Regions from separate parts of the Homo sapiens genome. Here region 1 is linked to region 2. The links come from fine-mapping of genetic effects on gene expression. A gene starts in region 2. The other region holds a variant in brackets. All regions are shown on one strand. Distances are from middle to middle. Region 1 overlaps CNTN1 (contactin 1). Region 2 holds the start of PDZRN4 (PDZ domain containing ring finger 4).

The links.
Region 1: its variant is fine-mapped to the expression of PDZRN4 in tibial artery (GTEx, PIP 0.96).

What each region holds. Positions count from the first base shown.
Region 1 is chr12:41,041,594-41,056,947 of GRCh38, forward strand. All of the region lies in intron 23 of CNTN1 (contactin 1), which reads left to right. Among named protein-coding and RNA genes, the nearest start is that of PDZRN4, 140 kb to the right of the region's middle. The variant A/C (reference allele first, on the strand shown) is at 8,239.
Region 2 is chr12:41,181,164-41,196,517 of GRCh38, forward strand. PDZRN4 (PDZ domain containing ring finger 4) reads left to right here and starts at 7,157. Exons shown (of 10, transcript NM_001164595.2): 1 at 7,157-7,940; 2 at 10,295-10,381; 3 at 12,918-13,025. The coding sequence starts at 7,293. It overlaps LOC124903069 (a long non-coding RNA gene), which reads right to left and starts at 7,069. Exons shown (of 2, transcript XR_007063563.1): 1 at 6,638-7,069; 2 at 1,867-6,167.

The DNA.
Region 1 (15,354 bases), 140 kb before region 2:
CCTGTTATTGGTCTATTCAGAGAGTCAACTTCGTCCTGGTTTAGTCTTGGGAGGGTGTATGTGTCAAGGAATTTATCCATTTCTTCTAGATTTTCTAGTTTATTTGCGTAGAGGTGTTTGTGGTATTCTCCAATGGTAGTTTGTATTTCTGTGGGATCAGTGGTGATATCCTCTTTATCATTTTTTATTGCGTCTGTTTGATTCTTCTCTCTTTTCTTCTTTATTTGTCTTGCTAGCGGTCTATCAATTTTGTTGATCCTTTCAAAAAACTAGCTCCTGGGGGCTTTAATTTTTTGAAGGGTTTTTTCTGTCTCTATTTCCTTCAGTTCTGCTCTGATTTTAGTTATTTCTTGCCTTCTGCTAGCTTTTGAATATGTTTGCTCTTGCTTTTCTAGTTCTTTTAATTGTGATGTTAGGGTGTCAGTTTTGGATCTTTCCTGCTTTCTCTTATGGGCATTTAGTATTATAAATTTCCCCCTACACACTGCTTTGAATGTGTCCCAGAGATTCTGGTATGTTGTGTCTTTGTTCTCGTTGGTTTCAAAGAACATCTTTATTTCTGCCTTCATTTCGTTATGTACCCAGTAGTCATTCAGGAGCAGGTTGTTCAGTTTCCATGTAGTTGAGCAGTTTTGAGTGGGTTTCTTAATCCTGAGTTCTAGTTTGATTGCACTGTGGTCTGAGAGACAGTTTGTTATAATTTCTGTTCTTTTACATTTGCTGAGGAGTGCTTTACTTCCAACTGTGTGGTCAATTTTGGAATAGGTGTGGTGTGGTGCTGAAAAAAAATGTATATTCTGTTGATTTGGGGTGGAGAGTTCTGTAGATGTCTATTAGGTCCGCTTGGTGCAGAGCTGAGGTCAATTCCTGGGTATCCTTGTTGACTTTCTGTCTCGTTGATCTGTCTAATGTTGACAGTGGGGTGTTAAAGTCTCCCATTATTATTGTGTGGGAGTCTAAGTCTCTTTGTAGGTCACTCAGGACTTGCTTTATGAATCTGGGTGCCATCCCCCTCAAGCTACCAATGACTTTCTTCACAGAATTGGAAAAAACTACTTTAAAGTTCATATGGAACCAAAAAAGAGCCTGCATTGCCAAGTCAATCCTAAGCCAAAAGAACTAAGCTGGAGGCATCACACTACCTGACTTCAAACTATACTACAAGTCTACAGTAACCAAAACAGCATGGTACTGGTACCAAAACAGAGATATAGATCAATGGAACAGAACAGAGCCCTCAGAAATAATGCCGCATATCTACAACTATCTGATCTTTGACAAACCTGGGAAAAACAAGCAATGGGGAAAGGATTCCCTATTTAATAAATGGTGCTGGGAAAACTGGCTAGCCATATGTAGAAAGCTGAAACTGGATCCCTTCTTTACACCTTATACAAAAATTAATTCAAGATGGATTAAAGACTTACATGTTAGACCTAAAACCATAAAAACCCTAGAAGAAAACCTAGGCATTACCATTCAAGACATAGGCATGGGCAAGGACTTCATGTCTAAAACACCAAAAGCAATGGCAACAAAAGCCAAAATTGACAAATGGGATCTAATTAAACTAAAGAGCTCCTGCACAGCAAAAGAAACTACCATCAGAGTGAACAGGCAACCTACAAAATGGGAGAAAATTTTTGCCACCTACTCATCTGACAAAGGGCTAATATCCAGAATCTACAATGAACTCAAACAAATTTACAAGAAAAAAACAAACAACCCCATCAAAAAGTGGGCAAAGGACATGAACAGACACTTCTCAAAAGAAGACATTTATGCAGCCAAAAAACATGAAAAAATGCTCATCATCACTGGCCATCAGAGAAATGCAAATGAAAACCACAATGAGATACCATCTTACACCAGTTAGAATGGTGATCATTAAAAAGTCAGGAAACAACAGGTGCTGGAGAGGATATGGAGAAATAGGAACACTTTTACACTGTTGGTGGGACTGTAAACTAGTTCAACCATTGTGGAAGTCCGTGTGGCAATTCCTCAGGGGTCTAGAACTAGAAATACCATTTGACCCAGCCATCCCATTACTGGGTATATACCCAAAGGACTTTAAATCATGCTGCTATAAAGACACATGCACACGTATGTTTATAGAGGCACTATTCCCAATAGCAAAGACTTGGAACCAACCCAAATGTCCAACAATGATAGACTGGATTAAGAAAATGTGGCACATATACACCATGGAATACTATGCAGCCATAAAAAATGATGAGTTCATGTCCTTTGTAGGGACATGGATGAAATTGGAAATCATCATTCTCAGTAAACTATCGCAAGGACAAAAAACCAAACACCGCATGTTCTCACTCATAGGTGGGAATTGAACAATGAGAACACATGGACACAGGAAGGGGAACATCACACTCTGGGGACTGTTGTGGGGTGGGGGGAGGGGGGTGGGATAGCATTAGGAGATATACCTAATGCTAAATGACGAGTTAATGGGTGCAGCACAACAGCATGGCACATGTATATATATGTAACTAACCTGCACATTGTGCACATGTACCCTAAAACTTAAAGTATAATAATAATAAAATAAATAAAAAAATAAAATAAAAAATTCAGAGAAAGAGTAATGGAAATTTACAGAAAGGCTAGGATGTTAGCTTCAAAATGCAGGATTGTTTTGGATTCAAGAAACAGAAATTGCTGACAAGATGGATACTGAGATTAAAACAATTTATGATGCTGGGTAAATTGCCAAGGATTATGTCAATAAGTTGAGTTGTAAGAATTCTGGTGCAAACAAAGTCAGTAAACACAGGTTTATCCTTTAAAAATATATTATTTGGCTCTATCACTGTTAAATAACATTTAAGTAGTCAAGTAGAGAGGAATATTTAAGGATTGGTTTACATCATTAATGACATAAAAATTGTAAATGTTTTTGTTTTGTTTTATATTTTAGATTAGTTATTCCACAATTTTGAAATCTATGAGGCAAATCCTTCACCTCAAATAACTGCATTTGGTGATGTGTTCTAAATTTAGAATGTTATACTGGGAGGGTAGAATCTGGAAAGAATATTGCTGAAGGAACTAAAATTGGAATCTAGCATGAGGAGGAACTCCCATATATAGTGAGTGCTTTGGAAAAGGACGTCAGAAATTAAAGAAATTAATCATTTTTGGAGAATGTAATTATAGTGAAGAATTTTCGGAGAATGAACCAATAGTCCTAAGGGAGATACCTTTATTCAAAGATGATTTCATTTTTCTGAGTATTGGGTATTAGCAAAATTTTAATTTTACTAAAAAGTAATGTGTTTCTCTTACCTGTAAGTATAACACCAAGGTTTGAGAAACTTCGTTGTAAAGTTTCAACCAATTTATGATATATGCATGAATAAATTATTCATGAGAAAATGGATAATCTTTTACAATGATTTATATGAAGAATTTTAATTATTGGTAAGCCTAATTTTGTATTTTTCTATGAATGTTGATTTACTAATGACATAAAAAGTTACATTAAGATATCTATTCTTTACACTCAAGTGGATTGAAAACATCCTGTTCCTAAGGATGAACTAAGATACACCTACCCCCGCCCCAAATCATAGGATATTACTTTACCTTCTCTTCTGAAATAAGAGCAACACAAAAGTTAATTAAAACAATCAGATTATCTTTAATAGATATATGCATCAACCATCAGAACAAGACTTCAAAATTCACTTTCCTTTGAAACATTATAGGCTGTGTTGAAATTTGTAACCCTCTTAGGAAAATATAAAAACAATTGTCTGTTCTGAGAAAGGGAGTTGGGTTTTAAATTTTCTCTCCTGAGGTTTGACACTTATTCACTATAACATAAATTTGAAAACCATTTAGAAAGGAAAGTGACTTTGTGATTTTTAAAAATAAAACCCTTGAAATTTCTCATAAATATTACTGGAAGCCTTTAATGCCATAGTAAGAGGGAATATAAAATGCTTAAACTGGAAAGTGATATGTCAACATATTAAAATGGTCCATTCGATACTACATTAGGGACCAGCTTTAGTGATTTATGAAGGAGCATTTAGGTCTCAAAGTAATTCCCATAGTTGGGTAAGGCTAGAAGCCAGGCCTCTTGGTAGATTCTTCACAGTATGAGAGCAGTGCAAAGGACATTCCAGAGGCAGTTTTTATAGACACATTCTGCAAAATCATCCAGACCAAAACAAAATAAATAATTTAGAACAATTTCAAGAGTATGAGATTATCCAGCCAGTAGTCCTTCTTCTATAACCTTCCATTTTAGGGCCTGCATACTTGACTCTCACTTCTTTTTCTTAAAAATGGGCTCAAAAGCAAATAATCAGTCTTGGGTCACATGGCCAGGAGAAGTAAGAAGAGTGAAGGTTATTGAAGGTTACAGAAAATGCAGGAAGAGTCGAGGGTGTGGCAGAGTACAGAGACTAACTCCTCAAGTCCCTTAGCCCATAGAGATGCCTTAGAATTCTGATGTGCCTGAAAGTTGTGAATCTTTAGGATATCAACATCCATGTAGATGATTCATCCAATGCCATAGCTTCTTAATTTATCTAACTTTTCTTTTCTGATGATCTTGTCCTGTGTCCTGCCTCAGCCACCCACTCATGATCACAACCGAAACAGGAATTCACAGATTTCAGTGTGAATTTGAATTTGAGGGATTTCTGAAACTTGGATGGTAAAAAATTACATTATAATTTTCATGAATTTCTAACTGAAATTTGGCATTTTAAAATATATGAATTTAGGTCACATATTACTCTGTCACCAATAACAATCAAACATATTCTCATATATTTCAGCTGTTGAAGTATTACTTCAATAATACATTTCTTAAATCTGCTCCTAGATCCTGTTATTTAATGTGTTAATAAGCATACTATTTGAATGTGTTAGTAACTTACATTTGGTTTCTTGATACTTTTATAAATGAATTTCAATACAATAGGTTTTTAAAAAACTCTATGTATTATATTTTATGCATGTAATAAGAGCATTATTCTCAGTATTTTCAGAAATCCACAGACCACTAAACGGGTCCATGACACCAAAAAGTTTAAGAACCCCTGTAAATCTTAATATTACTAATAACTGCAAATTTTTTTCTTTAATTTTGATTTTAAATACTGTGTTCTCTGACCACTGATTCTTCTTTTTCTAGTTTATTTCCTTAAATCTCCTCCCAACTCCAGCAGTTCTTCTACTTTCCCCTACCCAGACTACCAGTGATCTTATTGCTTATTTCTTTTTTTTTTTTTTTTTTTTGTCCTTCATTCATCCTCATGTCCTCAGCTCCTGCCTTGAATGTCAGCTCAGATTCCACGGTTCATATTGAAAACAACTGCCCTATATACCTTGTCCCTTTCCCTCTTTATGCTTCTCACTTGGCCAAACCCAAACTCATATTAAATATAACTGTTCACATTTTATGTGTCCACATCCAGGCAGAAGGCAGAAGCCATATGCCCCTACCAAGATCTCCCCTTTGCATTCCCATCCCCCTTGCATTCCCATCCCCAACATTCACCCTCTCACCAGCACCACATACCTAGAGACTCTGAGATATAATCTGTTCATGCCCTTCAGCCTTGTTTATGACAGTCACCTACAGAAACCCAGGAGTCTCTGATTAACACGGATCCAGGTGCCCATTTTCTGACATCTCTATTCATACTTTACTCTTAAAACCTTCCCACTGTTCCCTCTAAAACTCACCATCAGTTATCAGTAGAGTCTTCTGTAACTTCCATCTACTCACTGAGTGCTTCCTTCACCTTTTAACTTTATCTGAAGTCTTGCTCTCCCTGATGACATTGCTCCTTCTGCAGTCTATTCAAAAGTGGTGGTTCTCTCTCATACCCCTTGAAGGCTGCACCTGGTGGAGGGTAGTTGACCTTCCTTTTTGTCACTTCTACAGTATTCTCTTTCTCTCTTGCCTAAAAAGCTCTGCTTGGAATCATACCATCACCCTCTCCCACCCATTTCCCCTTCTTGTCCAAGTTTTCTACTAGCCTCTAGGGCCACTCTTACTCATTCCATGGAGACTTTACTTTTCAGATAATTTTCATTCTTTCCAAATGACATTGGAGAGAATGCCATTCTCTTTTATACTTCTTTCATAAGTTCTAGTGATACAATGTAGGCATAAATGATTTTTGCATTACTCTGTCCTCTCCATTTCTTTCTCTTATTGATGTTCTTCCCACGGTTCTACCCTAGCCCTTTTCATTACTATCTACATAATCTCAAACATCCTATCCTCTGCCCACTTCCTATCTTTACTCTTACCTCTGGTACTCAGACTCCCAAAAGTTTTTGACCTATCAGGAAGGACAAGCCATTGATCTGACCACTGTCTGTGTCCCTTACCTTCCTTGTATCCTCACTCTTTCCATATCCAGCTTAAATCCCACAGCCATATAATATAATTATTCCCTTGCATAGACCACCCATTCCACCCAGAAGTTCCCTTTTGCTACTCTAACTTCACCATACTCACTTGGCTAAAGGAGTGGATTAAATTTAACTCACTACTTGCTCCAAGCCTACACTTTCATGGCTAAAGGTGGCCAGAGAAGAATGCCAACACGAACACTGGTTTCACCTTGAATTCATGACCACAAAACTTCAAGTGGGCCCATAGTGCTGCTGGGCCATTCCACTAGATTTTCCTAGCACATCCACTCTTTCTTTCACCTAGAAACCTATTTCACACCTTCTTTTTTTCTTTCCTTTAATTTCTAACACATCTTTACCATCTTCTCTCTTTAGTCAATGACCTTGCTTCCTATTTCTCTGAGAAATAAAAGCAATCTGAAGCAGTCGACACCTACACATACGCCCATGTGACCTGCCTTTCTTTCTAAGATCCTGGCTGAATGTTCTATGTTCCTAAGGACACCCCTCCACATGGAAGCCAGATTCTAACACCTCTCGTTAATTCAAGAATATTGCTTCAACTACCCTTTCCTTCCTCTTCTACATCATTATATTTCTTTTTTTCTATTTGATTTTTCTCATCACCATACAAGTATTCTGCAATATTGCCCACTTTTAAGGGGGGAAAATACAAATAAGACAAAACAAAACAGAGCAACAATTGAAAGAAAGAAGAAGGAAAAAAATGAAGGAAGGAAAGAGGGAAGGAAGGAGAGAAAGAGAAGAAGGAGAGAAAGAGAAGGAAGGAAGGAAGGAACGAAGAAAAACAAAAAAAGAAAATCTCTTCCAGTAACTAACGCATGTTCTATTATCTTCTTTGGAGTAAAATTCAACAAATAATTTATCATCTTCACCACCTAATTCCTCTTCCAAAATTCTATCTTAAATTTGTTCCAATCAGATTTTCACCACAACACCCTGTCAAAACAGCTCTTGTCGAGGTTGCTAATGACCTCCATGTTTCTAATTTAGGAGTAGTCCTCTCCTTACTCAAGCTCTCAGCAGCACTGATGCATATGGCCACTTTCTCTTTCTTGGCTTTCTGGGCACCAGTCTGTTTTGATTTTTCTTTTCCCCTTAAGAGCTGCCATTCTCAGTCTCCTTTTCTGGTTTCTGGTAATCATTCCAACCTTTGAACTTTAAAGTCTCCCAGGACTCAGTACGTCAGTAATTCTTTTCCTCTTAGCCCTTAGGTAATCTCATGCAGTCTCGAGGCTTTAAGTGCATGACATGTATTTGTAGAAAACAATCAAATGTCAGTCTTCTCTGATTTATTCAGCTGCCTGATTGCTATCTCCATTCAGACATCTAATTTAAACTCTTCCCCATCTCCCTTTGTTTGCTTTTTCTGCAGTTTTACCCATCTCAATAAAGTATCTCCAATCTTCTTTGAAGTAATTTTTGGCATCATTTTCTTTAACACACCACATTCATTTCATCAAGAAATCCTGTTGGTTTTACCACTAAAATAAATGTATTGAGAAACATCCACCTCTGCTGCTACCATCATAGGGTCCAGTCACTGTGCCTTGTCTCCAGGATTGTTGCACTAACCATCTAATTGTGCTCTTCGCTTGGTGCTTAACACCTACAATTCATTCTTAATATAATGACCACAGTGATTATTTTAAAATATGTCAGCTCTTCTCATGTCTCTGCACAAAAACCTTTAATGGCTTCCTATCTGAGAAGGGGACTAGATCATATTCATATTTGTATTTTGCCTGATCTCTGCCAATCTGGGTCACTACCATTAACTCCCCAGCTCATGACATATAAACCAGTTTCTGG[A/C]AAACATAAGCCTGTTTATTTTATTTCCCAATGTCCTGCAAAATTTGATTTAACTAATTAAGATGTCTGTAATTTTTTTGTTTTGAGATGGAGTCTTGCTCTATCACCCAGTCTGGAGTGCAGAGTAGCACAATCTCGGCTTACTGCAACCTCCACCTCCCAGGTTCAGGCAGTTATCCTGTCTCAGCCTCCCAAGTAGCTGGGATTACAGGTGCATGCCACTAGGCCCAGCTAATTTTTGTACTTTTAGTAGAGACAGGGTTTTGCCATGTTGGCCAGGCTGGTCTTGAACTCCTGACCTCAGGTGATCCGCCTGCCTCGGCCTCCCAAAGTGCTGGGATTACAGGTGAGAGCCACTGCACCCAGTCAAGATGTCTATAATATTATTATAAATTTATGTATGTTTTTATTATTTATATGTTGCATTAGTCCATTCTCATACTGCTATAAAGAACTACCTGAAACTGGGTAATTTATAAAGAAAAGAGGTTTAATTGACTCACAGTTTCACAGGCTGTGCAGGAAGCATGGCTGGGAAGGCCTCAGGAAACTTATAATCATGGCAGAAGGGTAAAGGGGAAGCAAGCACATTTGCACACAGTGGCAAGAAAGAGAGAAGGGGGAAGTGCTACACACTTTTAAACAACCAGGTCTCATGAGAACTCACTCACTATCACAAGAACAGCAAGGGAGACATTCATCCCCATGATCCAATCACCTTCCACCAGGTCCCTCCCCCAACACTGGGGATTACAGTTCAATCTGAGACTTGGGTGGGGACACAGCCAAACCATTATCATATGCCTTGATTATTTAACATAGGTATGTTCTCTTTTTGCATAAATGAGAATAATGGTGTCTACCTTTGATATGAGCCATAAATGAATAAATTAAACCTGTTTTTATATATCTTAAACCTTTGCCACCCAATTATAACCGGAAGTATGAGTGGGAAAGACAACACTCTATATCAGCATTTCTCAAACTTTCTTCATTATTGCCTCCCTAGGAAGCCTCGTTACATATTATTTTTCCAAGTGTTACCACTTATGAAATTTTAATACCAAAAATCTACTGTATAGCTGTTTATGTTATGTGGCCCTTTAGAGATCCAAAACTATTATGAGATTTCAGATTTTCCCACCCCACAAGAACCAACTTTCACTTAGTTGGAGGCCATGTTGGCCCTATTGAGAATGCATGCTCGGTGGAGATTCTCACTCATTCCACTCCCTGGAGACACAGTAAATTCTATGAATCAATCAGTCCAAACCTTCAGTGAGCTGTGTTTTTAGAACATATTGCTTTGTGATCTTTTTTTTTTTTTTTTTTTTGAGACGGAGTCTTGCTCTGTCACCCAGGCTGGAGTGCAGTGGTGAGATCTCGGCTCACTGCAAGCTCTGCCTCCCAGGTTCACGCCATTCTCCTGCCTCAGCCTCCCAAGTAGCTGGGACTACAGGTGCCCGCCACCATGCCCAGATAATTTTTTTTTTTATTTTTTAGTAGAGACAGCATTTCACCGTGTTAGCCAGGATGGTTTCGATCTCCTGACCTCGTGATCCACCCACCTCGGCCTCCCAAAGTGCTGGGATTACAGGTGTGAGCCACCGCACCCAGCCTGTTTTGTGATCTTATATAATTAATTTTGTATTGAATTGTACTTTAGTCTTATGCTATTGGCTTAGACTGAGGGCAATTAAAAATAAAGTAGAGAAACAAAACCAAAAAAAATACACAAAATCTACTATTATATTATTCTACAATTGTTGAGGATATATTTCTATAAAACACATACAAAAATGTCCTCTTTTTAAGGAACTGTGAATGAAAGTTCTCTCAGGTAGGGGTGAACCTATAGAAGTGAGCACCCTGGTCTAGGCCAATAAATAAATATTTAATGTCTAAATAAAATAATTTAATATTAACATTAAATTAGTCTTGAAATTCCTGCATACTATGTATTTAATGGAGAAGATGAGATCTTGTAAGAGGAAGAATGCAAGGAGGATCACTTCTGTCTAAACTCTGGAACAGTTCATCTCCTAACATCCACCCCACACAAACACACACACACACACACACACACACACACACACACACACACACACAAAGAAACCTACAGTTAAATAATCCATTCTCTGTGAGCAGTGTAGATATTACTTATTGGAATGTATTAAATAGCAGACTCACTCTCCACACACACACACTCTAAATAGCTTATCAGCATCTTCCTTCAGTAGAGAACTGTGGGGGTAGAATACTGTGATAAATATGCTTTCCCAATTTCTTGTATTTCTAGTACTGTGTTGGCATCCAGTACAGTTTATATCCCGGATATCTGCCCAACTAGACTGTTCCATAAACTTTGTCTCTGGTCTTAAGACCAGAAGTAGATAAGCTCTTCCTGAGACATTACTTGTTTTTATCTTTTGGATAAAGACATTGGAAACTCAATGGCTGATGTATTTCCGTGTTTGCACTGCATGGCCAAAGCTCAGAGCCAAATCTGCTACATGCCTATAGCAAAATATATAAAGTATTGTATATTTTACTTTAAAATGTCTGAATATATATGCAGTGGCTTTAAAAAGTGCCTGGAACAACACAGACACAATAAATATTAGCAATATTTGTACTAGCTTTAGTTGATGTTGCTGCTATTTTGGTATTACCTCTTATTTTGTATCATGTTTCCTAACTTTATCTTTTTTCCTCTCAATTTTCTTATTTGTTTTCTTTATCATACTTTATCTATCTTTGTAAACTATCAGAAAGTCTTTTTAGAATGAAGTAGCCTATAACTTATAAGTAAATATTTATATTTTATCCCCCAAAGAACCTGGCAAACCATTTTGACTCAGTGTTTGTTTTTTCAATTTAACTAGCAAAAAAAGTTCTCTAGATAAATACTGTTGGATTACAATATCTGGAAGACTTCAATAGTAAATGTCTTAAGAACATTTATTTATCCTCAAGAACTACAAAACATGAATCGGATTTCCAGTATATGCTTTATAATTAAATTTAAGCCAAAAAGAATTCTTGAAATATTATTTAAAGTTATAAAGAATGCATCTAAAATGTGAGAGCCAATAAAATCTAAAGAGAAAATTCTTAAAATAAAATGGACACAAGAAGAAAAATGAATTAAAAAGCACTTACATATTTAGTAAAATAAATGTGCTTAGAAAATAGAGAACTGGCATGTGTGATCCTAAGACTACATAGATATTATAATCCAAGCAGAAGTCTAAAATATAAAGCAAACCAATTTGATAGAGAAATATTTGAAGTAGAAAAAATAATGATGCCATCACATTTGAAAAATATAGTCTTCATAATTCTTACATTCTTTCAAGTATCCCAAGTGCTTTCGTGACATTATATAGTCTGAGTTTATTTTTAGAAAGCCTTGGTTTTTATAAATAAAAAGACATTCTTTCTTTTTATAGAGTCACTATGAATGGCTGACTAAACTTCTAAACATATAAATACACTGCCATGGATATATGATACCCAAAATGAATTTGATGTAGAGGAAAAAGTAGTTCACAGACAAAATTTATTTAGATTTTGTCTCTTTCATGTTTTCACTAAATATATATATATATATATATATATATATATATATATATATTTGCCAATAATGCAGTGTCAGTTCTTTATAAGGTGGCTTATTCCTGGAAACTCTTGTTATTTTGTAATTTTGTTAATTATGTTGCCCTTTATATTGATGATTTAGATGTTTGAACATATCTTTTGTAGCTCTCTGCAGCCACATGTTATTCTTTTTGCTTTTGCTCCTGGGACTGAAAACTGTCGTCATCAAGAACTTTTAACTAATCTTTAACAGATTTTAAAATAACTAACATATATTTAAATGTCATTACAAATAATATAATGCTAGCTCATATTTATTATTATACTTGTTGAACTTTGGATTCAGTTAAAGGAATAAAGAATTATTTAACTTAGCATTTTCTTACTCTGACTTTTTAATCCTTTTTTACCCATTTTTAAAATAAATACAGTGTACCACTAAGGCAAAAGTCCCCAAAACTCTATTGTCTTCTTGTTCTTTCATTCTTTAAAAATATATATTGTATGCCAGCTCTTAATTGTGTTCATGGAAACTTGTAAAACACTAATCAATATTCTATAAGCCAGATAAAATAAATATAAAAGGAAACATTTTATATCTGAATTTTAGAGGCTAATTCCCTTTCCTCAAAGAAAGAGAAGTTATATTATTCTCAAATTAAAGTGAAAATGAGTATGCTTTCTTATTGCTACTTGATTATTTAGGACTATATAGTGCCTTAAAGTCTCTATACTATCCTTTCTGGTATAAGATTTATTTTTCTAAAATTTGAGAATGATAAAATTAGTAATAAATTTTGCTAGGAGTTATAGCATCGATATTGGGAAAAAATAAGGCAACTATATTACAGGCACTAGTAAACATAGTATTATACATATTTCCTAGAACATATTTGACTATAAACATTTTTCTACAAATTAAGTAGATATTGTTGTCAATGCCTAATATCTTACCTATTTTTCATGGAACATAACATGTATGAGGCAAGGTTAGTTATACACAAGATGAAAAATCATGGTGAAAATATGATTAGAGTATCTGCTTTAGCAAAGAGAGAAATGGTAATTCTCTCCTCATTTTAAACATAAACAAGTTTCCTATCTTTATAATTAACCTATTGATAATATAAACCAAAGCACTTATCACAGAACATAGCAGTTGCTCAATTATTTTATTGATCTTCAGCAGTTACTAATACATTCTGTAAGCTAGCACACAAATAAGGTACTTCACATAGAATAATGTCTTTAAATTACACTATCAGTTGCCATGTCACATTTAAAGAACTCATTCTCTAGTTATTAGATGTACTTGAATGTACTTATGTGATTTAGAGAATGTCAAGTCATGCAATATATTTTTGCAAATTTGATGAATTTTCATTTATATGTGTTAATTTTAAAATATTGTTTCAATCATTTAATATATTTTCTACACAGCTCTGCTGCATGGTCAATGAACAGTATGTCATTTGTGGTTTATCGTCAGCCATTTTTAATTAGACGAAATCCAACATTGCAAGTTTTAAAACTGAAGATTAGGCATCATTCCAAGTAGCAAATATTTTTGTTTTGGTTTTCTTCTAGGTTAATAACTTCTCTGACATTTGCACAACTGTGTTTGAAATATAGTCTAATAGAATATGTATTTGCCTTCTATAAAATTAATGTCCTAGACGATGATAAAATATGTTGAAGTTTTAAGGGAATTATTTTTTTTATTATCTTGGATTGGTCTATGAATTAATGAAATGGAAATTAATATACATGAGAGGATCAACTATAACTTTACATTAATTTAGAGTATTATAAGCAGTGGCTTAGAATAAGAGTTTACTTTTTGTGAATATCCAGGATAACTTTCACTAGCTTCTCCCTTTTTCACAATGCATTTCTTGGTAAATATTTTGTTATCATCACGACAGTGGGTGTTTCTAAAACCCATTCATATATTTTGCCCCATCTCTTCTTCCTTAGTGTGTTTTCCTCCTCCTCCAGGAAACCCCTTTTCTGCTGCCACCTGGAAGTACCCTCCTTTTTGCTCCCCTCATATCTTTGGCATTCTAAGTGCAATTGTGTTTACCACACCGTACTACAGTTGTGGTTTACTATCATTCAACCAAGATCTCTTGAGAAGAAGAAAGGCCATTTCTGCACCCAGTACTGACCACAGAAGTAGTGGGTTCTTATTAAATTGAAATTCATGAATGGAGGTTTGGCAGTTAAGTTTTTTCCTGTTATATTAAAACTGAGAAGCAATCCTAAAGAAAGAAAAATGACTTGGATAGAAACTCACATTTTAATCACATTTAGATGGTTCCTGCCCACTTAGTTAAAACAACTAGCATCTTTATCTATAAGTTGGATCATGTCAATGTACCTTTCTCAGCAGTGACTTCCTCTCTCTTCCCTCTCAGCTTCCCACACAGGGACATTACAGCCACGGATTTGCTCTTACTTTGAAGAAGCACGGGTACCTCAGTACCTAGATCTTCTTTTGAGTTTGCACAACCTTGGAGATGCAGAGTAGTTAAGTTGTAGTCAGAAGAGCCCTGATTCCTCCCGGCTTGGATTAAGTGGTACCCTAAATCCTAAATACCTTCTAATGCCCTTTAGTCTGGGCCTGGCCAGATACTTCTTTCCTGAGTCCATTACCAGAAATCTTTGGAATGTGGCCTGCAGAGACCACAGACAATTGGCACTCATTTTTCAACAAACAAAGTAGGTTAGAAAATAATTTTCCAGCTATAATAATACAAAGAGCCACCAATCATGAAATATTTATTTATAATAGCAATGCACTCTGTATCTTTGTTAAAATAACACAATTAGCTAATTGTTACTATCACCATTTTACTGATGAAGTCACTGAAATTCAGAGAGTTTATGTAACTTGTCCAAAGTCCTACAGCTGGTTAAGCTAGGAGCCAGAATTCAAATGATTTAGTTCTAACACTAAAGCATGTGCTCTTAATCTGTATACTATGTTAGGATGGGATTAGTTCCATATGGCAATTTTTAGCAAGAACCTGATATTGGGACATGACATAGCAACAAGAGAAGAGAAACAGAGATACCCAGAAATACACAGGTCATTCTATAAGTAACTACTATATTGCAGAATAAATAGTGAATGCCAGATAGGCACAGCTAAAATTTCTAGCACTCCAACTCCAAACCAAATTTTGTTAACTATTTGGGAGAGGACCTGACATAGCTTCTGCCATTATCTAAACAGACAGAATCCACATGATTCTTGGAGGAGGAAAAAATTAAATAAACTCAGATTACTTTCTTTTAATCTTCTAGACTCCATCCGTACAAGTGGAAAATTCATCTGACTCAGTTAAAACTAACATATTTAAAGCACCAATTATATAGTCCAATTAAAGTATTATCTAAATATAACATTTAGATCATAATTTATTATATTATAAATATTTGGATATTTATAAATATTATATTTAGATATTTATAAATATTTATAATATTTAGATATTTATAAATATTTATAAT
Region 2 (15,354 bases):
TGTCAAAGGCCTTTTCTGCATCTATTGAGATAATCATGTGGTTTTTGTCTTTGGTTCTGTTTATATGCTGGATTACATTTATTGATTTGCATATATTGAACCAGCCTTGCATCCCAGGGATGAAGCCCACTTGATCATGGTGGATAAGCTTTTTGATGTGCTGCTGGATTCGGTTTGCCAGTATTTCATTGAGGATTTTTGCATCAATGTTCATCAGGGATATTGGTCTAAAATTCTCTTTTTTGTTTGTGTCTCTGCCCGGCTTTGGTATCAGGATGATGCTGGCCTCATAAAATGAATTAGGGAGGATTCCCTCTTTTTCTATTGATTGGAATAGTTTCAGAAGGAATGGTACCAGCTCCTCCTTGTACCTCTGGTAGAATTCGGCTGTGAATCCATCTGGTCCTGGACTTTTTTTGGTTGGTAAGCTATTAATTATTGCCTTAATTTCAGAGCCTGTTACTGGTCTATTCAGAGATTCAACTTCTTCCTGGTTAGTCTTTGGAGGGTGTATGTGTCGAGGAATTTATCCATTTCTTCTAGATTTTCTAGTTTATTTGCATAGAGGTGTTTATGGTATTCTCTGATGGTAGCTTGTATTTCTGTGGGATTGGTGGTGATATCCCTTTTTTCATTTTTTTTTTTTGAGTCTATTTGATTCTTCATTGTTTTCTTCTTTATTAGTCTTGCTAGTGGTCTATGAATTTTGTTGATCTTTTCAAAAAACCAGCTCCTGGATTCATTGATTTTTTGAAGGGTTTTTGTATCTCTATTTCCTTCAGTTCTGCTCTGATTTTAGTTATTTCTTGCCTTCTGGTAGCTTTTGAATGTGTTTGCTCTTGCTTCTCTAGTTCTTTTAATTGTGATGTTAGGGTGTCAATTTTAGATCTTTCCTGCTTTCTCTTGTGGGCATTTAGTGCTATAAATTTCCCTCTACACATGCTTTGAATGTGTCCCAGAGATTCTGGTATGTTGTGTCTTTGTTCTCGTTGGTTTCAAAGAACATCTTTATTTCTACCTTCATTTCGTTATGTACCCCATAGTCATTCAGGAGCAGGTTGTTCAGTTTCCATGTAGTTGAGCAGTTTTGAGTGAGTTTCTTGATCCTGATCAATGAGACAGAAGGTTAGCAAGGATATCCAGGAACTGAACTCAGCTCTGCACCAAGCGGACCTAATAGACATCTACAGAACTCTCCACCCCAAATCAACAGAATATACATTCTTTTCAGCACCACACCACACCTATTCCAAAGTTGACCTCATAGTTGGAAGTAAAGCTTTCCTCAGCAAATGTAAAAGAACAGAAATTATAACAAGCTGTCCCTCAGACCACAGTTTATTTATTCTTTCAAGATTTCCGGGAGGTAGGATGATACAGGTGTCAATGATTTCATTTTATAGATGAGATTATACTGAAATTAAATAATTTATGTCAAATCTATGGCATGGCAGAACAAGTCATGGCAAAAGCATCTCTTTGTTTCTTAGACATCGTTCTAGTCAACAGAGTTTCCATGTGGAATTTCCAGTATCCATTATTTTAAAAAATTATATTTTCATGTAATAAATTATTAATATATAATATTAATTATGTCTAGATTTCCTTTGAGTTTGGGATAAACGAGCAAACAAGTGGCTTCAGAAGCCCAAAGAAATACTGATGGTAAATGAGATCAGTGATATTTTTCCTGGTTTTGTCTTCAAACCTTAGTTACATTGGTTTTAGATTGTGGTTTCCACATCACTGTAATAAAAAGTAAAAAATGACAATTGACAAAATAATTTCTTTTCTTCCACTAAGCAAGAAGCTGACTTAATGAGCTCACATCTCAAAATTCTGTGAAAATTGCTGTAATTTTGCAGAAACATCCAGAAAAATATTACTATAGAAAATTTTTATTGAACGAAGCACAAAGTAAGAGTTTGACCGAAATATATAGTGATTGATTTATTAAGACAAAACTTAAAGAACATACGCAATTGGTTTATTACATAGAAAACTTTCAGCTATTTAAGACCAGTTATGTGGAACAAAATGGTCTAAAATAGCCATATTGGTTATTGGTATTGCATAGAACAGTTAAACGATATTCTCATTTACATAAACTATTCAAAGGCCTCTAATAAACATGACCTTGGAACTTCCCTCATCAGAGGAAGCAAAACAAAAAGAGAGCTTTTAAACGATGGAATCAAATGAATGCAATTACAGAGTCCATTCACATATTTCATTCGATAGCATATTTTATTCTAAAATAACCCCATGGCAAGTGTAAGAAAAACAAGCCAATACAATATAGCGTTTAAGAGTCTGAGTTCTTTAGTGAGGCTGATCTTAGTTTAAGCCTAGGATCTGCCACTTTTGATTTGTGTGAACTTGGTCAAGTTATGGGAACAATAAAAGTACCCACTCAAAATCGTCATTGGAAGATTTGAATGAGATTGTGTATGTAGGGAATGTAGTGCTGTGGCTGTCACATAGTAAGAGTTATTATCTATTAGCTTGTGGTTGTTTTTTATACCATCTCTCTTTGTCAGTGACTATGACCCACAAGATATAACACAAAATTAAAGTTAACTAAATGCAGAATTTAATCTATTTTTCTCTATAAACCATCTCTCACAATAGTCCCTTCTTAAAAAGAATAATAGTACCCTTCCTAATGTCTGGGTGACTTTGGAAGAATCAGTCTGTAATCTAATTTTAAGTTGCCACAATTTTTAATTTAATACCTCACTTTAATTTGATTTTCTTCAAATTCCTCATTCTGCTGTGTCTGATAATTCATTCCTGCAGAGACTGCACAATTATTGTAAATTATTTACTCAATTTTGGTGTACATAATTGTTTTATTCATATTACTTTATTCCCCTTAAAAATGGCATTCTGTACTGTCATAATACCCCTTCCAACTACATTTTGCCAAAGACAGCAGGAAAGCAAGATAATAGCAAATAACTCCTAATGGATTATGTGTCAACAGACAGGAATTATAAGAATTGATACTGCTCTGTGTTCTCAGGATTTAACTGATTATGTATAATTTGGAGTGAAACATATCCAAAATGTATCACTTCTCTAACATAATATATTATCAGCCTACTTTTGTAAAATAAAAAAAATCTGCCTCATTTTTAATAAACTTTCAACTAACTCAACTTCAAAGTATCTTTTATTGTTCTTATCAAGTTTGGAATTTTTCTGTACTGTCAAAGTGACCTCGTTATTATCTCATGCATTACAAACATAGTCATTTATGCTACTAGGTGCAAATCTGATCCCACATTATGATGGAAAAATTATCAAGATAAGAACAAAGTCCATTAACTTCAACACAAATGAATGTATTCCACAGGAAATATTTTGACCTAAAGTGGCTAAGTACTTTTGCCTCAGCTACCAGAGTAATTTAGTATAGTTACAGATTACATTTAGAGCACTTGGGATAATTATAGAAATAGTACTAATTTATGATAAATGACCAGGGAATTGAGAAAAGAAAAACATAGATGATGAAATTTTCTTTATGAGAAAGTTTATATAATAGAGAATTGAAAAACTATTGTTATATATAAAGTACTAACTTATGCTATATGAACACATATAAAATAAATGTTTAAGGTCCTATTCTTTGAAAAATTCCCCCAACCTTTCCAACTTCATGGCCCTTAATTAAATAAATAAAACATGAAAAAGAGTCACAAATGAGTTGGTTTTGACAAAGCATTATCTGTGCATGAGGTGAAAAAAATCTTTCTCTTTCACATTTTACCTCTCCATTCATCATTTTTGAGTCTTAGAATACAGTATTTTATTTTGGGACTTTTAGCATTTGACTCAACAACCAATACTCCTAGATTCATTCTTGGAAGTAGGCATGACTCAGAGCTGGGATGGAACCCTGCCTCTTCTCACTGGAAACACCCAAGGCACATCCCAGTTTCATTACTGCACTAGGAATTGGCCCAAATAATTTAGCAACTTAATGTTTTAATCTCTTTTCATGAATATATGACTGCTGATAGCAGATGAAAGCAAAAACTAGTTACTAAGCTGAAAATACTCAACCAACTACTGATTGCTTAAAGATTTTATTTTATTTATTTATTTTTTCCTTGAGGTGGAGTTTCACTCTTGTTGCCCAGGCTGGAGTGCAATGATGTGATCTCGGCTCACTGCAACCTCCGCCTCCCAGGTTCAAGCGATTCTCCTGCCTCAGCCTCCTGAGTAGCTGGGATTACAGGCACCTGCCACCATGCCTGGCTAATTATTTTTAATAAATTTTTAGTAGAGATGGGGTTTCACCAAGTTGGCCAGGCTGGTTTCGAAGTCTCAGCCTCAAGTGATCCACCTGCCTCGGCCTCCCAAACTGCTGCTTAAAGATAACTTGAATCAAGCCATGATTCTTGGCTTGGAAATAAGCTAAGTGAATTCATAGTCTTTCCTTTGTTTCTTGGCTGGCAAAGCACAATCTCAGCTCCAGGCTGAACAAAAGGTTATGAGAAATGTAAAAGGCTTGGTTTTGGCTACAACGCACAACACAGCTAGAAGTTGGCCTTGCCCAACAAGAAGACAGTGGGTTTCCTTTCAGCTCTTCCCCAAGTGTTAGTATTCAGCCTGCAATTTTCACTATCCAGGGATGTTTAGATGATAGACAATTATGATCAGTGAAAACATAAGAGTATGCCCAAGCTAAAGATGCAAGGTGTTAATTTGTCTAATTTGCCAAAAAGCATCTAAATATTACTGGGTCTGTTTTGCTGAAATATTTGTGCATATATTAAACTCATTTAAAGTGCTTTCTTTGTTTACCCAAGCTAATTACTTCCATTTAATTAGGCTCCATATTCCTAGCTCACTCAAGCTTTTCACTGATATTACAATTTTGCTAATATGTAGAAAAATATTTTACAGTCTGGGAAGTGAAACGAGACTATCTGACTCAACTGATGTCACAGACTTATGCCACAATGTTTCCAGATGGCAAAAGTTTATGAGGTTCACTTGGGTGTGTCCATTCTCTTAGAGTTCAATTCTTGTCATGTTTTTTCTTTATACTTAGCTCTTTTGGAAATGCTTAGGCTTTTATTTTATTACGTAAAAGATTTTCCTGTTCTGTTTGGCCTATTTCATTACTCAGTTTCACTTTACATGCCCTCATTTTGGAACTTCCTATTCTCTGTGGACAACGTTTTTGACATCTGCTTTACTTTAATAATAAAAATGTTATGCATCCTGGAATTAGTCATAACATAATTTGCTCATGCTCCTTACTTTTGCTATAGGAATTGCATGGGTATACCAAGGATATCATATGAACTTTTTTTTTTTCCAAGTAACTGAAGTCTCATGGTCCTAACAGTCTCATGTCTCAAAATAATATTTTTGGATTCCATCTCTTCTCTCTCTTTTTAAAAATGCTGTCAGTGTCATTGTGTTTACTGTAAAACCAATAAATGTCAAGCTATAGCTATAACTGTATATGCATGGTTATAATTATAAATGTTTATAGCTGTAAGTCACAACTTTTTCTATAGCTAAAAAAAGGAATAGATTTCTCCTGCCCAGAAGTATTTTAATAAATTCTAGAACATGTATTTCCAGTTTATGCAATTCACAAAAATATTTTCATGCTGTTAATATTAAATGATTTCTTATTTAATCAGTAATTCATTGTTTGCTTATTTATTTGTAGAAAGACAGGTCGAAAGAGGGGGGAAATTTGGAACATAGGGGCAAATGTTACTTTATCACATATGAATCTATATATATTAAATGAGAAATATAGCATCTTATTTTGAAAAAGAGTTTAAAAGCATATCAAACATCTAGCACACCAATCATCACTGGTTATTGAACAACTAACAAAATCTCATCTTTCAAACAGCAAGAAGGCTCAGAAGGTTATTAGCCTCTATTATTAGTCTTTGCTAATTCTTCAGTTAGCTCCAAGGATTTAAAAGACAAAGTCTGGAGCTGTTCTCATCAATTCCAACTGATGCCATTTGGTGTCATAGAGAATTACAAGCTTTCCAGGAACAAGGCTCAACTGGCAGCAAGGAATCATCAATGATTAATTTATAAAACCCACCCAAGCATCTGGTGGCAGCTTCAGGATAATGGCAGTAAGTGATATGCAGCCAGGTGACAGGATCTCTGCATTCCTAAGGTTCAGAAGATGGTAAAGGAAGTGGAGTAAGAAGGGTTTGGAATGACGCCCTACTGCGTGTTTTCAGGACGGCTTGTCATGCTACACAATTTGAGGAGTCAAACTAGGAGGGGAGGCAATTTGGATCCAAAGGGTTCATTCAGGGTAAGTAGAAGGAAGCAGCCACTAAGATTTTATTTATATGTTATTTCACTGCTTTCTTTCATCATCCTTCCCTTTAATTTTCCCTTCCAGGTTCCCAAATGATCACATTCCCGTCCCCAGTAGTAAAACGCCCGTGGAAGTAGAAGATGGATGCTGTGGCAACTGAACCTGGAGTCAGACTCAGAATCCCAGCTTCCTCACTCGGGAGGAGGCCTTGCATGGCTGTTCATGGGCTCCCTAAGAAGGCAGTGTCCTGAGGCGGGCCCTTGACTTTTTCCCCATCTTTGCTGCTAGGTCAAGGATCGCGCCATTCTAACTCACCTGATTTCTGGATCACGGTTTGAGAAGCCTGGCCCTGTGGATTTCCTAGTGTTATTTTCCTTATAGTGATTTCCTAAGGTCACAGTTTCCTAACTTCTGATTTTGTAGTTTTGATGTGAAAGAACAAAAGTGCTTCGATTTCAAACATATTGGAGATAGACTCGACGCCGGGCGGGCCATGGGCATTCAGCGGAAAACCAGACAGACAAAAAGATTCTGCTCTCCCGAAGCTTACATTGTGGTGAATTTAAAAGTTGTTTCTCAACATTAGCGCTTTACCCATCAGCAGCCCTGCCCAGGGCGAGGCGCCTCGATGCTTGAAGTTCACTGTTCAGGCGAAGGAGAACACAGTGTTCCCAAGGACCATTGTAAGCTGGGCGGCCAAAATTTGAAAGAACATAAATCGCAGGGCAACGAAGGAGGCGGGGGTCTCTGGAGGTTACTTCTATTAGCGTCAATACGGGCGAAATCAGGGGACCTAGCAGGAGCCTGAAAACTTCAAGCCAAACAAACAGTGAGATCACACCTCCCACCCGCCACCTCCCTCCACTGCCGCCGCCGCGAGACGGCTGCCCCGGGGGTGGCCCGGGGAAGGCAGGGGGGCTCGGAGAAGACGGACTCTGCTTTCGCTCCCCCTTTCTTCCCCATCCCTAACATGGGCTTTGCCCTGGAGCGCTTCGCAGAAGCCGTGGACCCGGCTCTGGAGTGCAAACTGTGCGGCCAGGTGCTTGAAGAGCCCCTGTGCACGCCGTGCGGGCACGTCTTCTGCGCCAGCTGCCTGTTGCCCTGGGCGGTGCGGAGGCGCCGGTGCCCGCTGCAGTGCCAGCCCTTGGCGCCCGGCGAGCTGTACCGGGTGCTGCCGCTGCGCAGCCTCATCCAGAAGCTGCGAGTCCAGTGCGACTACCGCGCCCGCGGCTGCGGCCACTCGGTCAGGCTGCACGAGCTGGAGGCGCACGTCGAGCACTGCGACTTCGGCCCTGCCCGCCGGCTCCGCAGCCGCGGGGGCTGCGCTTCGGGGCTGGGCGGTGGTGAGGTGCCCGCGCGGGGGGGCTGCGGTCCGACACCCAGGGCTGGCCGGGGCGGGGGCGCGCGCGGGGGGCCGCCGGGCGGCCGCTGGGGCCGCGGGCGGGGACCCGGGCCTCGGGTCCTCGCCTGGAGGCGGCGCGAGAAGGCGCTGCTGGCGCAGCTCTGGGCGCTGCAGGGCGAGGTGCAGCTCACGGCGCGCAGGTACCAGGAGAAGTTCACCCAATACATGGCTCACGTCCGCAACTTCGTCGGCGACCTCGGTGGCGGCCACCGCAGGGTAAGCAAAGGGGGGTGGGCACCGCGGGCATGGTCGATTGGGGTGGGAAAAGGAGCGGTTCTTTCTGACGCTTCAGGATTCCTTTGGAATTGGGCATCCTTCCTCACTATGCAGCAGGAAACATCCACACCCTGATCATACTTTCCTGTCATTATCTTACGAATGGATTGGCGTCGAAGTTAAGGATTGTCCCTTTTCTGATTATATTACGATTGGAAAGAGTTAAACAGATTCGATTCTAACTTTCCCCCGGGAAAGTAGGAATTGTGAAAACTCATTTTCCATCCAGACTCTCGTTTTCCATCTTTCACCCTCCTGCCCACCGTCTCTGCCTATTTTTTGAGCACTTGTCCCGTGCCTGAAGCAAATCCGAGAAGGAAAGACAGAAAGCGAAGACTTTCCCGGCCCAGCCTTTCCTCTCCCGCGGCCACCAGCATCCCCGCGGCCCTGGCAGCCGCGCACGCACACCTGGGACTGGTGTCAGCGTTGATGACACTTGCGCTGCCACTGCCTGAATCAACTGCCTTCTATTAAGTTGGGGACTGTGAGGCACGTTGGGGCCAGGACAGCCTCAGGAGTTGAGAGATGGGGTTTCTTAGACTTGCAGAGTTCATTTCATCACTCTGACTTTCCCTAAATAAGCCTTCCTTGCCTCGGGATCTCATTATTGGTGGAGAGAGAGAGAGAGATTGAGATTGTGTGTGTGCGACCTGGGAAGTCCAGTCCGAGAACCTCCATCTGTGGTCAGACCGGCCCTGCGAGCCCCCAGGCAGCGGTTGTTTCCCTTCTTTGTCTAAGCTGCTGGCCCCGAACTGCGCTCCTGGTCCTCCCGCCGGCTTTCATACCGAATAAACAAGCCTCTTTGCAGCATCCCGTGTGAAGAGGCTTGTTTATAAAGCTGTTACTTCTCTCCTGGAGGACTTCTGCACAGTGTCTGACATTGTTGGTCGCTGCCATGGTGAGCAGGGATTTAGCAGAATTTGCGCACCATTCAAGGAGCTGTTTTCATTCTTCAGCACTCCCGGGGAGGAGCAACCCAGAAAGATTCCCATTTGGGACTGGCTGCTCCACACTGCCTCTAACTCAGGCACTGAGTTTAGAAGCGCCCGTCTTGAACGTAAAAGAGAAAATTGAAGTGAGAGGGACTAAAATGTTTCTACCTTGATGAATGGAAGCACGTTGTGTATTAAACGACCGGTTTCAAGGAGTATTTCTCTAGTTCATATATGCATATACATATACGCATATATACAGGTAAATTTACAAAACGGGAGGACCCGGGGAAAAGCACAGATAGAAGCTTTGTATTACCAGTCCAGGTTTCAAGGTCGTAGGAAACCAATGGTTGAAGGAAAGGAGGAACAGCTAGAATAATATTACAGAAAAGTCCATGCAACAAGTCAAGCTATGATTCTGAGAAGTGAGAAAAACTGCCCATGATTTGCAGACTAGCCAAAACCTTCTATGTGTTCCTCAGAAGTGTTTTTCTACTACCAGTAGGGGCTGCTCTGCGCATTGCCTGGGAAAAGCTCCTGGGAAAATATCTTGATGCTGATAGCAGTGATGATGATGCATATGTTCTGAATGTTATCATTCAGAAATAGTTTCCAAGTAAAGGTTAATAACATCTACAACCATGAATAAACCCACCTAGTCCAGCACTAATTCATCCTATGTGTAAGTTAGTCTTTACTAATAAACATTGTAGCTATAATTCATATTTGTTTTACTATTATTTGGCCAGCAGGAAAAAATACATACTACTTTACCTAGCACAAACCCTTATTTTTTTATTCTGCAGGAATTATGCAAAACCAAATAGGAATATTATTTAAAATTAGGACTACAGTAGCCTAACAGATCCTGCATTACAACAGCAACATGAATGTTATGACTATAATTTATAAATAGTTCCAGTGTTTCTTAAATTCCTTAAGACTTTACAAAATAAAAATTTTACACTATTGATAATTTATATTTTACTTTTCTGTAATGGAGGGAAAAATAAAGATACCTCCAAGGTTTAACCAGAAATCTGTTTTCAATTGCAGTGAAATCAGATTTAGATACTGCATTAGGATAAAAGAGCTTCCTGTCTCAAAATGCAAAGCCATTTAGTAATTTTTGAAAATAGGGCTTTTTCCCCTCACATGCACAGTTGTTCTTTTTCAAATACATACTTGCAAAGTAAGTATAGGAAAATGTCAACCTTCTGCCACATTCAACCATCCTTAATTTTAAAGTTTTCCTCTTTTCACATGTCAGTTAACTTACAGTACATAAAAACTTATTGTAGGATTTATTTTTCTTTTATATTTTTACCTGGTTAAGTCATTTTATACATTTTTTTCTAGGATGGAGAGCATAAGCCATTCACTATTGTGTTAGAAAGAGAAAATGACACTTTGGGATTCAATATTATAGGAGGTCGACCAAATCAGGTAAAACACCTTGTTAATGCATTACTCGTTACTTATAAAATAAGCATTAATAAGCATTACTCATTGCTTATAAAATAATAGAGGACTTAGCTTTTGTTTGTGGATTTTGAGTAAGAAAAACAAGTGGTTTAATCTTTAAAATTATACTTGTGATCAAATATCAGATTTCTTAATGCAAATATTCCAGTACATACCCAGATTTTATTTATTTATTTATTTATTTATTTATTTATTTATTTATTTTGTTTGTTTGTTTGAGACAGAGTCTTGCTCTGTTGCCCAGGCTAGAGTGCAGTGGCACGATCTCAGCTCACTGCAACCTCTTCCTCCTGGGTTCAAGCAATTCTCCTGCCTCAGCCTCCCAAATAGCTGGGATTACAGGCTCCTGCCACCACACCCGGCTAATTTTTTGTATTTTTAGTAGAGACAGGGTTTCACATGTTGGCCAGGCTCGTTTTGAACTCCTCACCCCAAGTGATCCACCTCACGGTCTCCCAAAGTGCTAGGATTACAGGTGTGAGCCACCATGCCTGGCTCTGATTTTATTATTTTTTAATTTTTAAAAATTATTTTCTTTTTGAGTTGGAGTATCACTCTGCAGCCCAGGCTGGAGTGCAGTAGCGTGATCTCAGCTCAATGCAACCACTGCCTCTGGTTCAATTGATTCTCCTGCCTCAACCACCCAAGTAGCTGGGATTATAGGCGTGTGCCACCACGCCCAGCTAATTTTTGTATTTGTAGCAGAGAAAATACAAAATGTTGGCAAAGCTGGTCTCGAACTCCTAATCTCAAGTGATCCACCTCCCTCACCTCCCAAAGTGCTGGGATTACAGGCTTGAGCCACTGCACCTGGCCTTTATTTTTGAGAAAAACAAAAAACAACAGCTAGCAAACTTGGTTCTCTTTGCTACTTTAAAAGAAGAAAAGGAAAGTACATTTCACATTTTATCTAAATTTTATTGTCCTTTTGGCAAATTTCTTGAATAAACCTATTTCACAATACCATGTGTAGGCAATTTCTATTTGATAATATTAGGCAATTGTATTGCCTGCTTAAACCTATTTATTAAGTGCAATTACTCAGTTTGAAGATGCTAATACAGACTAGGAAGAAAATTATATTGAATGAATGAATGAACAGTTGAAACAAGGGATGATTGATTTCAATAGGAAGTACCATGTTAAAGAAAAACAGTTGATTAGAAATATTTTTGGCTCCCCAAACCGAGTTCTTTGTTTGATTGCATGAATAATATTCTTCATGTTGATGTCAATTGTTTTCAAAATGCATATTTTAAACTTATAGAATATACTGTAGTTGCAAAGTTCTTTTATATCTTTGAATTCCTGTGTCAACTTAATTTTCACCGTAACTGGAAAAAGGTGGTTAAGTTTTAAAAAATGATGTTCTTTAATTTTTCTCAATAAACTGCCATGAAATTTTTGCATCCTGCATTGCAGATGTTGTACAAGGAAACTGTCTTAGTGTTGTTGGCCATATGCTCTGTTTAGGTAAGGATGGCAGTGACATATTTCTTCCTTGTTTTTAGTATTTTGAAAACTTAGCAACTAATGACTGCTGTGCTTCTCTTTTTAAAACAGTCCTCATTTATTAAGATGAAAGCCTTTTCATCATAGCATTTTCGTTATCATTTTCCCTAAGGAATATTTTTATAGATTCTATTTTGGTATTTGACATTTAGATGACATCGGGCCTTTTTAAAAAGTCTCTTAAAATTCATGATAAGGACAGCTAAAGAGAAATAATTTTATTTAACCTGTCATGAAGTCAAATGACATTTAAAATTATATAATGTATTATTATAGGATGTTGGATATTTTCCCCTAAATAAGCTTTGACTTCTTGTGACTGGCTAAAATGTCCTATTTTTACCATATTGGCTATGTTTGAGGTTTAACTAATCATGAGTCAGACTGCACCTGGAAATATGTAACGATGAGTTTGCATGGGTTCCCTTTTGCATAGGTTCCCTTGCAGTTTAGATGTGATCTTTTGGGATTTTACACTTGAGTAAGCTACCAGTGTCTCTTGTGAATAGACACAACTAGAGCTATGTTTCTAAATCTGGCACATCAAAAAGCTAAATTACATTTCTAAACTCTACCACATCTCAAACCAGTTATACAGTGGGAACCAGATATATGTTTTTTTCCTTCTTTAACCTTATCACCCTTTTACTTGCTGTCTCTCTTTAGAAGTGAGATGTTTTATAAATAATACTTAAAAGCCAGTTTATTTCACCTTGTACATGCCCTTTCCCATAGCTTTTTTATGTGAACTCAAAAATGTGAAGTAAATAGATAATCTTGTCAGAGACCCTGGACTCATTCATTAAAACTGCCACCTTGATTAATGACTAGTTGGTGTTAAGTAAGTTAAAATTCTGTTCCAAATCCCCAGCTAAGAGAGTTGCAGGTTTACAGAGGATTGGTAATGTTACATTTGGTAAATTGTCCCTAATAATATTTAAATTTTGCTTACATCTTTCTTCTGCTAATGATTTTTTAAAAATAGAATAATCAGGAAGGAACATCGACTGAAGGAATTTACGTTTCAAAAATTTTAGAAAATGGACCTGCTGACAGAGCAGATGGCCTGGAGATTCATGACAAAATCATGGAGGTAAGACAATGATAAAACATGTATATGATCCATGCAAGAAAGATTGGGATATTTTAAGTTTTCAAATTTACCACTTTACCTTGGTGTGGTGCTTATTAGAATATACATTCTTAGTAGCAGTAAAGGCATTATCATTTTTACTTTCTTACAAAAAATGTAAAAGTCACTGGGAGAGGTGGCTCATGCCTATAATCCCAGCACTTTTGGTGGCTGAGGCAGGAGCATCACGTGAGCTTAGGAGTTCGAGACCTGACTGGGCAACATTGTGAGACTTCATCTCTACCAAAAAACAAAACAAAAAAATTAGCTGGGCATGGTGGCACATACCTATGGTCCCAGCTACTCAGGAGGCTGAGGTGGGTGGATCACTCGATGTTAAACCCAGGAGGTCAAGGCTGTGGTGAGCTGTGTGTAGGCCACTGCTCTCTAGCCTAGGCAACAGAGCAAGACGCTGCCTCCAAAAAGAAGTAAAACTCTATTATGATTCTATATAATTCGTTAGATATTGTGATGAAAGAATAAAATGCCTGAAGTTTTCAAATGTGTTAATGAATACCTCTGTTTTAATAACCTGTGTTTCCCATGAACTATGATGTCACTTGCTTGATTATTAAAGGATTAATTATTATAACATTTCAAAAAAGGATGATAAATCTCTGTTGAGGAACATTTCTGATGAGGAACTATGATTATATTTTAAATTTGTAATTAATATTTTATATGTAGAGTTTGGAATAAATTATACAATACTTTTAATATTTCTTGGTGTAATATGGCTACCTTGTTCCTGTCATTATCTTTTATATGAAAGAAAAAGAGAAATACCTTTTTTTCTCTTTGTTGTGAAAACCTGGTGAGAACTCTTTGTATGTTTTAACTGTATTGTTGTATTCGGGGGTGATAAAGTGAGCACCTATATGCTAGTAAAATTGGGTTATGTTAATGAAATTTTATGTCCCTGCCATCTGCCATCTCTGTCCTTTTGACATTTTATTAACTGGTTAAGATAATATTACTTTTTGTTGCCAAAAATGGTTAAGTTACTTTTATCAGTGAGTTTATTTCCAATGGATTAGTGAAGCTATAAATAGGAATTTGGAAGGTTTACTTGACTCCACTATTGTTTTTAAAAATTCTGTTCACTCTAGGCTATATAATCACTAGTGCTATCTCTCTGAATACTTATATAAACTATCAGAATGGAGGCAGATTTTCTATATTAAATTTTAAATAAAGTTTTAGCTTTTCATTCATCCTCTGTGCACTAAACAAAGTTGAATTTTTAATGAATCGACATAGAGTAAGAGTGAAGAATATAGAAGACCCAATAGTTTGCTGTTTTGGGAAAAAAGAACACAACATTTATAAATTAGCCGACTACAAAATTTAGAAAAAAAAGAAGAGTTATCTTTTGCCAAAAAAAAAACTTTGATTTATATCTAAAGAGGTCTCTTGTATCAAGATTTTTATTCTTCCAGTTTTGTTGCCGAGAAAGTGCAGACCTACTTTTGCTGTTGCTATCCAGTTCATCTTGACAATTTGTCTAGTGGAAACATTCACATGCTGTAGCTTCTAAAGTTAGAATGTGCACAGTATGATCTAAAGGGCAACATACTTTAAACAGAAGATTGTCCCTATTACTTTCTGCATTATCTCAAAAACATATTAAGTTGTCCAGTTACCAATGGAAAATAAATTCCTACATTTGATATTATTAGAAGAACTGATGGAACTGAATACATATATTGTTACACCCACACAAACACATAGACACAACAGAAATACGTATTGGCAATTTAAAAAATAACTTATTCTAGCTAGATGACAATATTATGTATGCTTCATTAATGTTACATTAGAAAAGAAAAAGAATTTTTTATATTGTCATACAACAATTTGGTTACAAACCTACTGTTTTTTTTAAAGAGGTAATTTTATAAAACTATGGTTGAAAATCAAGTGCATCTAGACACCTACATAGTACTGTTACTAATATATGTCAGATTAACCTTATTTAAACCCTGTAAGATAAAAAGTAAGGAGGTCAACCACAGAAATTCAAATGAAATTTAACTAGCTGCGGTATTATTATTCACTTTCATTTGCATATATTAGCAGTTAATGACTAGAGCTTGAAATTTGTCTCAATGATATAGATTTTTCAATGTGTCTTTTATACCAGGGTACATTGATTTTATGTATATATGCTATAGTTGTAGAATGGATCAATGTGACCACATTTGCAGTTAAGAAATGGGTTAGATGAGGTGCATATTTCTAGAATGTTGTGTGTTAAATAGCATGAAATATTTTAGAAAGAAGATTATTA